Regions from separate parts of the Homo sapiens genome. Here region 1 is linked to region 2. Evidence: fine-mapped expression QTL. A gene starts in region 2. The other region holds a variant in brackets. All regions are shown on one strand. Distances are between the middles of the regions.

Region 1 (4,381 bases), 190 kb before region 2:
CGAAACCAGTACTTGTCTGCAGGGAGCCCTGAAACTCTGGAGGTCAGGAGAGGGTATGGCACGAGCTTCCTGCCTGGCGGGGGCATGTTGGCAAAGGGGTCTGCACGGCCATGCCAGCTGCTGGACCCAGGAGTGCAGGGCAGGCGTCCTCTCCCGCAGATGCTCCTAGGGCCTGCACATAGCGGAGCCCACCCATCCAGGCTGCCTGACGGGGGTGCAGTGGGGGTTCCTGTCTGCCCTGAAGCCCAGGTTCCTGGTCCTGTTCCCTCATCCCAGCACCAGACACATCTGAAAGGGGCTGGGATCTACCCTGTGAAGACCCTTAGTCCCACAGGGGCTGGGGGGGGGGTGGGCATGGGGGTGGTCTTCTGCTCCTTTGACGGAGAGGTGGCCTAGTGTGTGCTTGGGAGACACCTCCTTGCTGCATGGCCTTGGCAAGCTGGGAGGAGGCCGGCGCGTGCACAGAGGGATTGCTGTGGACCAGGCGGCCATACCCAGCGGCAACTTCCTGCGGGACACCCAGGGAGAAAGGCCGGTGTAGGTGACCGGCTGGCTCGCTGCTCATCTGAGGCCCCTTACTCTCAAGTGACACTACCTGCCGGCACGACCCCAAGCCCCACTGCAGCGACAGAGACACGTGCGCTGGTCCCCTGCGGGAGGAGGTCCCGGGAGGCCCCGCCCGCGGCCCGCCCCGCCCAGCTCTCTCCCGACTGACTCAGTCCTGCGTCGCGGTTTCGCTCTCCGCTCAGACTTTCGGCCGGATGAGCTCCCCAGGGCGGGGCAGTCAGCGTCGGCTCCTCACCTACCGGGGTCTGAACGCCCCGGGGGCGAGGGGAAGACCCTGAGCTGCACGGACACACGGCACACACGCGCGGGCAGAGCCACGCTCCCAGACCACAGCCACCGTGCACGCCGCGCTCACCGTGCCCGGGATGTAGTGGAAGAGCTTGTTGGCGGCGGCGTCCCCGCTTCGAGCAGCCTCGGGGCCCGGCAGGCCGGCCGACATCCGCGCGCTGTCCTCTCTGGGGACAAGGCAAGGGGTCTCGTGGCTTGGCCCCGGAGCGGGTGGGGGAGCCCTGCGCCCAGGTGGCCGCACCCACGCCCCGCTCACCTGTTTCCCTTCAGCGAGGGCTTTCTGGAGAAGGAGGCCCGGAGCCTCCTGGGGGCCTGAGGGACACAGTGGCTGTTCCCCATGGCCAGAGTCGTACAGGTCGGCAAGTCTGGGTCCCTGTCCACAGCCTCCTGCCCCCGCCTCCCGCGGGCAGGCGGGGCTCCGGGACGTCCCGCCCGGCACCAGGGCCTGGGCGAGGGTGGAGCCTTTCTGGAAGAGGCCTGGCCCCTACCTGAGCCGTGCAGGTCTCTGCCCTGGGCCCTCCACTCGAGAGGCCAGCCTTGGGGCAAGCACCCCTCTGGCCCAGACGAGGCCTCCAGTGTGCAGAGGTACCCCACCTGCTTGTGCTCCGGCTTGGTGAACCCGGGGCGACCTTCCAGGCCCCCCGGGACAACGTGCCCACACATCCTGTTTCCATCTAAACTCTGGCCGGCCCGAGTCACCGGTGACTGCAGGGAGGGCTGAGGCAGGAGTTCCAGCACAGGAGACGGCGGCCAAAGCCACCGCAGCCTCCCCTCCTGCCTGGGCCCCCTCGCCACAGACCCGAGTCAGGGTCCCCAAGGCTTAAGGGGACTCAGGGAGGCCACATGCCCCCTAGACGGCCAAGACAGTCAGCGCACTCGGGGGCAAGGCTGTCCTCCCCAGCCCTAACCCCAGAGCCCACGATGTGGCGGGGACCTCGGCCTCAGTACCCAGCCCAGGCAAACGCCACCCACACTGGGACGCTGGTCCACAGGAACTGCACGGCCCCCACCCTCCCTGGACGCACAGCTCTGCCTTGCAGCTCCCAGATGCCTGCGCATCTCAGGGCACCCCCCCACACCCCTCACCCTGGACCCCAGACAGGACCCAAAGTTGCGCAGCTGCCCCACATGCCAGAGAGAGATGCTCAGCCTGAGGAACCCCAGAAATGTGTTTATTAAGTTGGACTCGTATTGCTGTGTGGGGTCCCAGTGCACGCGTGTGCACCCACTACAAGATCCAGGAAAGATGGCACACGGCAGACGACGACAGGAAGGACAACTGCTCCCCACCCTTCCCGGGACCCCGCCATGTGCAAAATTCGAGCTGGGGTCTGCAGCTGCTTGGAGAGACCCAGGGCCTCTTGCTCCACAGCCTGCAAGGTCTGAGCAGGCAACGGCCCTGGGGCGGTGAGGCCCCCGCCTGGTCACTCCCCGCGCCCCCCATGCAGGCAGTGGAGGGGAGGACACGCAGGAGGACCAGACGCTAAAGGTGTAAACGGGCAGCCGTGGCACTCCTCACCCCTCAATAAATAAGATAAATAACTAAATAAATAAACAACTAAATAAAGACATGAAGGAATGGATGCAGAGACGTGAACGGATGGCGCAGGACGTCCCTGGTGGGGGCCACGGTCCCCTTAAGGCATGTGGGAGGCTGCAGGCCTCTGGTGGTAGGTGGGTCAGAGGCTGGTGGAGGACACGGACAGCGTCGGGGAGGATGGCGGCGGGAAATTGAGCAGCTCCAGCACCGCCACACCCACACTGCTGCGCCGGGTGAACATGCAGGATGCGGCCACCCACTTGTTGGTCCTCGGGTTGTACTTCTCGATGGAGTTGAGGCTGGAGCTACCGTC[G/A]TTACCCCCCACGGCGTACAACCATCCGTCCATGGCCACCAGGTCATGCGTGCTCCTGGGGGGAAGGCGGGGTGAGCCCCTGGCTGCAGGAAGGGATGCGGGGGGAGGGGCTGCACCACAAAAAGGGGTGGTGGCGGGACATGCTCGCTGAGGTTGGGAGAACTCCCTTCTCACAGCACATCCCCACTGCGGACCCGCGCCCCCCTCCCGGCAGCACATCCCCACTGCGGACCCGCGCCCCCCTCCCGGCAGCACATCCCCACTGCGGACCCGCGCCCCCCTCCCGGCAGCACATCCCCACTGCGGACCCGCGCCCCCCTCCCGGCAGCACATCCCCACTGCGGACCCGCGCCCCCCTCCCGGCAGCACATCCCCACTGCGGACCCGCGCCCCCCTCCCCGCAGCACATCCCCACTGCGGACGCGCGGACCCCTCCCACAGCCCCACTGCGGACCCGCGCCCCCCTCCCCGCAGCCCCACTGCGGACCTGCGGATATTCATGGGCGCCACGCTTTCCCAGGCTCCAGCCTTTGGACTGTATCTCTCTACCGAGTTGAGGCAGCTGGTGCCGTCGTTGCCCCCTGCCACGTACAGGGCACCCTCCAGCACGGCCACGCCCGCTGAGCTGCGTCGGCTCAGCATGGACGCCACGGGCGACCACACGTTCACCTGGGGGCGAGGGCGTGGGCTGGACGCAGACCCGCCACTGGCATCCCTCCTCTGCCGCAGCCCCGACTCCAGGGTGGGGTGTCAGGAATGGGGGGGATGTGGGTAAACAGAGGGAGGAGGGCCCCGCGGCGCACGGGAGGGGGTGGCCAGGAGGGGTGCACTATGCACCTGGGGCTCATACTTCTCCACAGTGGCCAGGTGTGAGGAGCTGTCGTAGCCGCCCACAGCATACAGGTTCCCATCTGCCGGAAGTCAACACACCCGTGGCACTCCTGCTGGGAGTGGGGTCTCCACGGTGGGGGAAGGTGGGGATGCCCCCCAGGCAGGCCCCATCACCCACCAAGCGTGGCCACTCGCACATAGCGCCTCCGGGTGCTCATGGCAGCGACGGACGTCCACGTTCCGGTCAGGGGGTCGTAGCGTTCAGCACTGTGGGCACCAGGACCGCAGCCACAGCTCAGCAGAGACAGAAAGGCGTCCCGGCCCCAGGACCTGCCCTCCCCAGCGGAATGGCTGAAATCTTACCCTAGGAGTCAAACTCAGACCGCAAAGTCCTACCAGGCAGGGCCCGCTGGTGGGCACAGGACCCTGGCTGCCTGAACAACCCTGGGTGCACACCCACCTGGGCCCAGCCTCTGGACTGGGGGTAAGGACCCGAGAGAGGAAAGGGCACTGGGGCAGCAAAGCCAAGAGTTCAGGCCCAGTGTGGCAGTGGCCTGGGGTGAAACGGCCTCGCGGATCACCTCCTTTAACACCCCATCAGATACGACCCCTGTGATGGTGACACAAACTTGCCTCTTGCAGATGGACTGTACAAAGCCACTGGGGCCCCAACCCCAACTACCTGTTCAGGCAGGAGGCCCCGTCATAGCCGCCGGCCGAGTACAGGAGTCCATGCAAGGCGGCCACACCCAGGCAGCTTCGCCTTGTGCCCATGGACACCTCCGGCTGCCACGTGTTAGTCACGGGGTCGTAGGACTCCACGGTAGCCAGGTCTGAGGTCC
Region 2 (4,381 bases):
ATCGCCAGGCGCGGTGGGTCACACTTGTAATCCCAGCACTTTGGGATGCAGAAGTGGGTGGACCATCCGAAGTCAGAGGTTGAGACCAGCCTGCAGTGAGCCGAGATTGCACCACTGCACTCCAGCCTGGGAGACAGAGTGAGACTCCATTTCAAAAAAAGAATTAGCCAAGCGTGGTAGCATGCACCTGTAGTCCTAGCTACCGGGGAGGCTGACGGGGAAGGATTCCTTGAGCCCGAAGGTCAAGGCTGCAGTGAGCCTTGTTTGCACCACCTCACTCCAACCTGGGCAAGACCCCATCTCAAAAAAGAAAAAAAACCCACAAAAACAAAAAACAAAACAGAACAGAACAGCATCACTTCCTTATCATTAGTTTGAAGGAAGTGAATTGCCTGTAAAAGTTTCCATTTTCAAAAAAAGTGTTAAAATATAGTGTAAAGCCAGGCACGATGGCTCATTCCTGTAATCTCAGCACTTTGGGAGGCTGAAATGGATTGCCCCTGGAGGTCGAGGCTGCAGCTGAGCGATTCTCCCGCCTAAGCCCGGCAAGTTGCGGAGACTACAAGCGCGTGCCACCATGTCCAGCTAATTTTTTGTATTTTTGTAGAGAAAGGGTTCCACCATGTTGCCCAAACTAGTCTGGAATTCCTGAGCTCAAGTGATCCACCCACTTCCGCCTCCGCCTCCCAAAATGCTGGGATTAAAGGCGTGAGCCACCGGGCCTGGCCCAATTACTTTCTTCAGTCTGAGCATGAGTGCTGGAAGAAAAGCTCTCACTTGCATATAATTTTTTAGAGACAGAGTCTCCCTCTGTTACACAGGCTGGAGTGCAATGGCGCAATCTCAGCGCATTGTAACATCAACCTCCAGTGCTCGATCGCTTATATAATCTCAGCTCACTGTAATCTCAACCTCCCGGGCTCGATCGCATATATATACACACATATATTTGTTTGTTTAGACGGAGTCTTGGTCTGTTGCCCAGGCTGGAGTGCAGTGGCGCGATCTCCGCTCACTGCAACCTCCGCATCCCGGGTTCAAACAATTCTCTGCCTCAGCCTCCCGAGTAGCTGGGATTACAGGCACCTGCCACCACGCCCGACTAATTTTTGTGTTTTTAGTAGAGACGGGGTTTCAGTGAAACCATGCTGGCCAGGCTGGTCTTGAACTCCTGTCCTCGTGATCCACCCGCCTCGACCTCCCAAAGTGCTGGGATTACAGGTGTGGGCCACCTCGCCCAGCCGACTGCTTATATTTTTAAAAAGATGTTTTCTTCATTTCCTAGCCCCTTCTACCCCGCTACAAGTTTCAAAGACTTAATGCTATTACAAAGGACCGTCAGAGGTCAAGCTCAGGGGTGCAACTCCCTCATGCCGGGCAGCCTCAGGGGGCCGACCCTACCCAGGATGAGCGGCGCCAGGTAGCCGGGGACGCTCCCGGGGATCCCCGGGCCCTGGCTGGGGGAGGCGTTGTGGAGCGCACGTACCCAGGCTCAGATGAGGCGAGTGGGCGGCCGGGGCTGCAGCTGGCGCTGGCCATTGAGGAGCTTCTGCGCGACAGTGCGATCGGTTGCACCTTCTGCGACAGGTGCCGGCCGGTTGGCGCGCAGCGCCTGCTAGCGCAGAGTCTGGCCCTTGCTGCGCCCGGCGCCGAAGACCGGGAAGTCGTAAAGCTCCTCCTCGTGGCTTATGTGCGGCGGCGGCCGGGCAGAAGCCTAGCGACACAGAACTGCCAGCTCAGCAGCCGGTTACATCCCGCCCGGCCACCAGTAGGCAGCGTCCGCTCATGCGCGCTCCTGGAAGAACCAGCAGCCCCCACCGCGAGTTCTGATTGGCTCTGCGTGAGTGGTAGTCCCCTGTGACGTCACAAGGGTGCGCCTTCCGTGACGTCACAAGGGCGGGTCTTCGCCGACACCATAGAGGTGGGCCGTTGGCGACGTTAGAGGCGCGGGTGTTCGGCTACATCACTGGGGCGCCATGGTGCCTGGAGCTGGGCAGTTTTCTCATCAGAGTGGGGACTGGTAAGAGTGACCTCCCCGCCAGGTTCTGTGTGTTGCCGGCTGAAGAAGGGTAGCTGAAAAATTCAGACCCAGCACAGTGTTTATGTTGGTCAAAAATAGAAAACTATGTCTGGCGCGGCCGAGGCGGGAGGACCCTTCAGGCCAAGAGCAGCCTAGCAACATGGCGCAACCCCATCTCTGTAGTCCTACCTCAGCCCCCCAGCTACTTGAACCCAAAGGTTCAAGGCTCCAGTGAGCTATGATCCCACCACAGCATTCCAGCCTGCGAGATTGAGGTAAACCCTGTCTAAAAAAATTTAAAAAACTATCCAGGTGTGCAACAGGGAGGGACTGCTAAATAAAACATGAGGCTGGCTGGGCCCTACTGTAATCCCAGCACTTTGGGAGGCCGAGGCGGGAGGATGGATGGCTTGGGCTCAGGAGTTCGAGACCAGCCTGGGCAACATGACGAAACCCCGTCTCTACAAAAGATACAAAAATTAGCCGGGCGCGGTGGACACCTGGCCTAATTTTTGTATTTTTTTCTAGAGATGGGGTCGGGGGGTGCCTCGCTATGTTGCCCGGGCCAGTTTCGAACTCCTGAGTTGAAGCAATCTTCTCACCTTGGCCATCAGAGTTGTCGGGATTACAGGCGTGAGGGACAGCGACCCACCTGGGTTAGGCTACTTAATAACATAAAGTGCTCCGCCAGGCTCAGTGGCTGACACCTGTAATCCCAACACTTTGGGAGGCCGAGGCGGGTGGATCACCTGAGGTCAGGAGTTGGAGACCAGCCTGGCCATGGTGAAACCCAGTCTCTACAAAAAATACAAAAATTAGCTGGCCGTGGTGGCGCATGCCTGTAGTCCCAGCTACCTGGGAGGCTGATAAAGGAGAATTACTTGAACCCGGGAGGCAGAGGTTGCACTGGGCCAAGATCACACCACTGCACCCCAGCCTGGGCGACACAGCGAGACTCCAAAGTTTGACACCAGCCTGGGCAATGTAGTGACACCCTGTCTCTACAAAACAAACAAACAAAAACCCAGGCATAACTGTGTCCACCTGTGGCCCTAGCTAGTTAGGAGACTGAGGCAGGAGGATCACTTGAGGCCAGGAGCTCAAGGCTGCAGTGAGCTATGATAATCCCACTGCTTCCCATCCTGAGCAATAGAATGAAAGCATGTCTCTAGATAGATAGCTAGCTAGATAATTGATACGTAGTTTTGTATCAAATTTTTTCCCTAGATTTGAGCATGTTTTTCTAAAGTAGCATTCAACACATCAGCATTTTACAGTGTTATTATTTGTTAATATGATTATGTTTTTCTGAAATACAGTGTCCTTTACAAAAGCAGTTTTGTCTTTCAAAGCGCATAGATAAGGCCCTCAAGTAAATTTGTCTGATGTTGCCGACCTTGGTACCATTTTGTCCACTTGATTGAAAAGCCAGTCAATAATTTCAGGTCACTGTTGGCCTTAGAAGAAGAGCCCAAAGGCAACAAGCAAAGGCGCTGGTGTCCAGTCGCCTTCTAGAAGCATTTTCACTTTCCCTTAAGGTTTCCCTTGATGAACATAGAAGTACTGTATGTAGAATTGACCCAGTGCTGCCCTGGCAACTTTGTATATTAGGCCAAATTTACATTTCTTAGCTTTATGAGAGGCACCCTGGTAGGCTAGTGGAGTTACACACAAAGTCTGATCTCAGCTGCACTGTCCAGAAATGCAACACGGTCCAATCAAATAACATTCTCTGAGCCTGTTTCTTTAGCTGTGAAAGAAGAATAACATACCCATCTAAAAAGGCAGCTTATTGTATTTGATTGGTCTTTTATTTTCTATGAAACTGTGTTTAACACAGTAATTATTTTCATTTGTGTACTACATTTGTGTTGTGTTTTTGGTTTTAGTTTTGTTTTTGAAATGGAGTCTTTTTTTTAGTGGTTTTTTGTTTTGTTTTGTTTTGTTTTGTTTTTGAGATGGAGTCTTTCTATTGTCACCCAGGCTAGAGTGCAGTGGCGTGATCTCCGCTCACTGCAACCTCCACCTCCCAGGTTCAAGTGGTTCTCCTGCCTCAGCCTCCTGAGAAGCTGGGATTACAGGTGCCCACCACCATGCCCAGCTAATTTTTAAAATATATTTTTAGTAGAGATGGGGTTACAACATGTTGCCCAGGCTGGTCTCAAACTACTGACGTCAAGTGATCCACCCGCTTTGGCTTCCCAAAGTGCTGGGATTATAGGCATGAGCCACCGCGCCTGGCTTGTTTTAAAATAAGGGTTTCTTGGCTAGGCATGGTGGCTCACACCTGTAATCCCAGCACTTTGGGAGGCCAAGGTCAGTGGATCACCTGAGGTCAGGAGTTCGAGACCAGCCTGACCA

Alleles and levels. Alleles are on the strand shown, and positions count from the first base shown. SD is a standard deviation of normalised expression in the study named.
For the expression in subcutaneous fat of the gene that starts at base 1,781 in region 2, allele G in region 1 goes with a higher level than allele A (large effect, 1.4 SD a copy in FUSION).

What was found. PIP is the estimated chance that this variant, and not a neighbour inherited with it, causes the effect. A credible set is the group of variants that fine-mapping cannot tell apart.
Region 1: its variant is the best candidate, but not a certain one, in a credible set for the expression of LINC01409 in subcutaneous fat (FUSION, PIP 0.64).

What each region holds. Positions count from the first base shown.
Region 1 is chr1:963,345-967,725 of GRCh38, reverse strand. It overlaps KLHL17 (kelch like family member 17), which reads right to left. Exons shown (of 12, transcript NM_198317.3): 8 at 4,222-4,381; 9 at 3,718-3,806; 10 at 3,546-3,619; 11 at 3,196-3,377; 12 at 2,007-2,763. The coding sequence ends at 2,535. PLEKHN1 (pleckstrin homology domain containing N1) reads right to left here and starts at 1,244. Exons shown (of 16, transcript NM_032129.3): 1 at 1,112-1,244; 2 at 923-1,022. The coding sequence starts at 1,194. RefSeq lists silencers at 603-762, 1,033-1,352. The variant G/A (reference allele first, on the strand shown) is at 2,709.
Region 2 is chr1:776,198-780,578 of GRCh38, reverse strand. LINC01409 (long intergenic non-protein coding RNA 1409) reads right to left here and starts at 1,781. Exons shown (of 6, transcript NR_187359.1): 1 at 1,487-1,781. LOC100288069 (a long non-coding RNA gene) reads left to right here and starts at 1,945. Exons shown (of 20, transcript NR_168328.1): 1 at 1,945-2,295. RefSeq lists an enhancer at 1,659-2,228.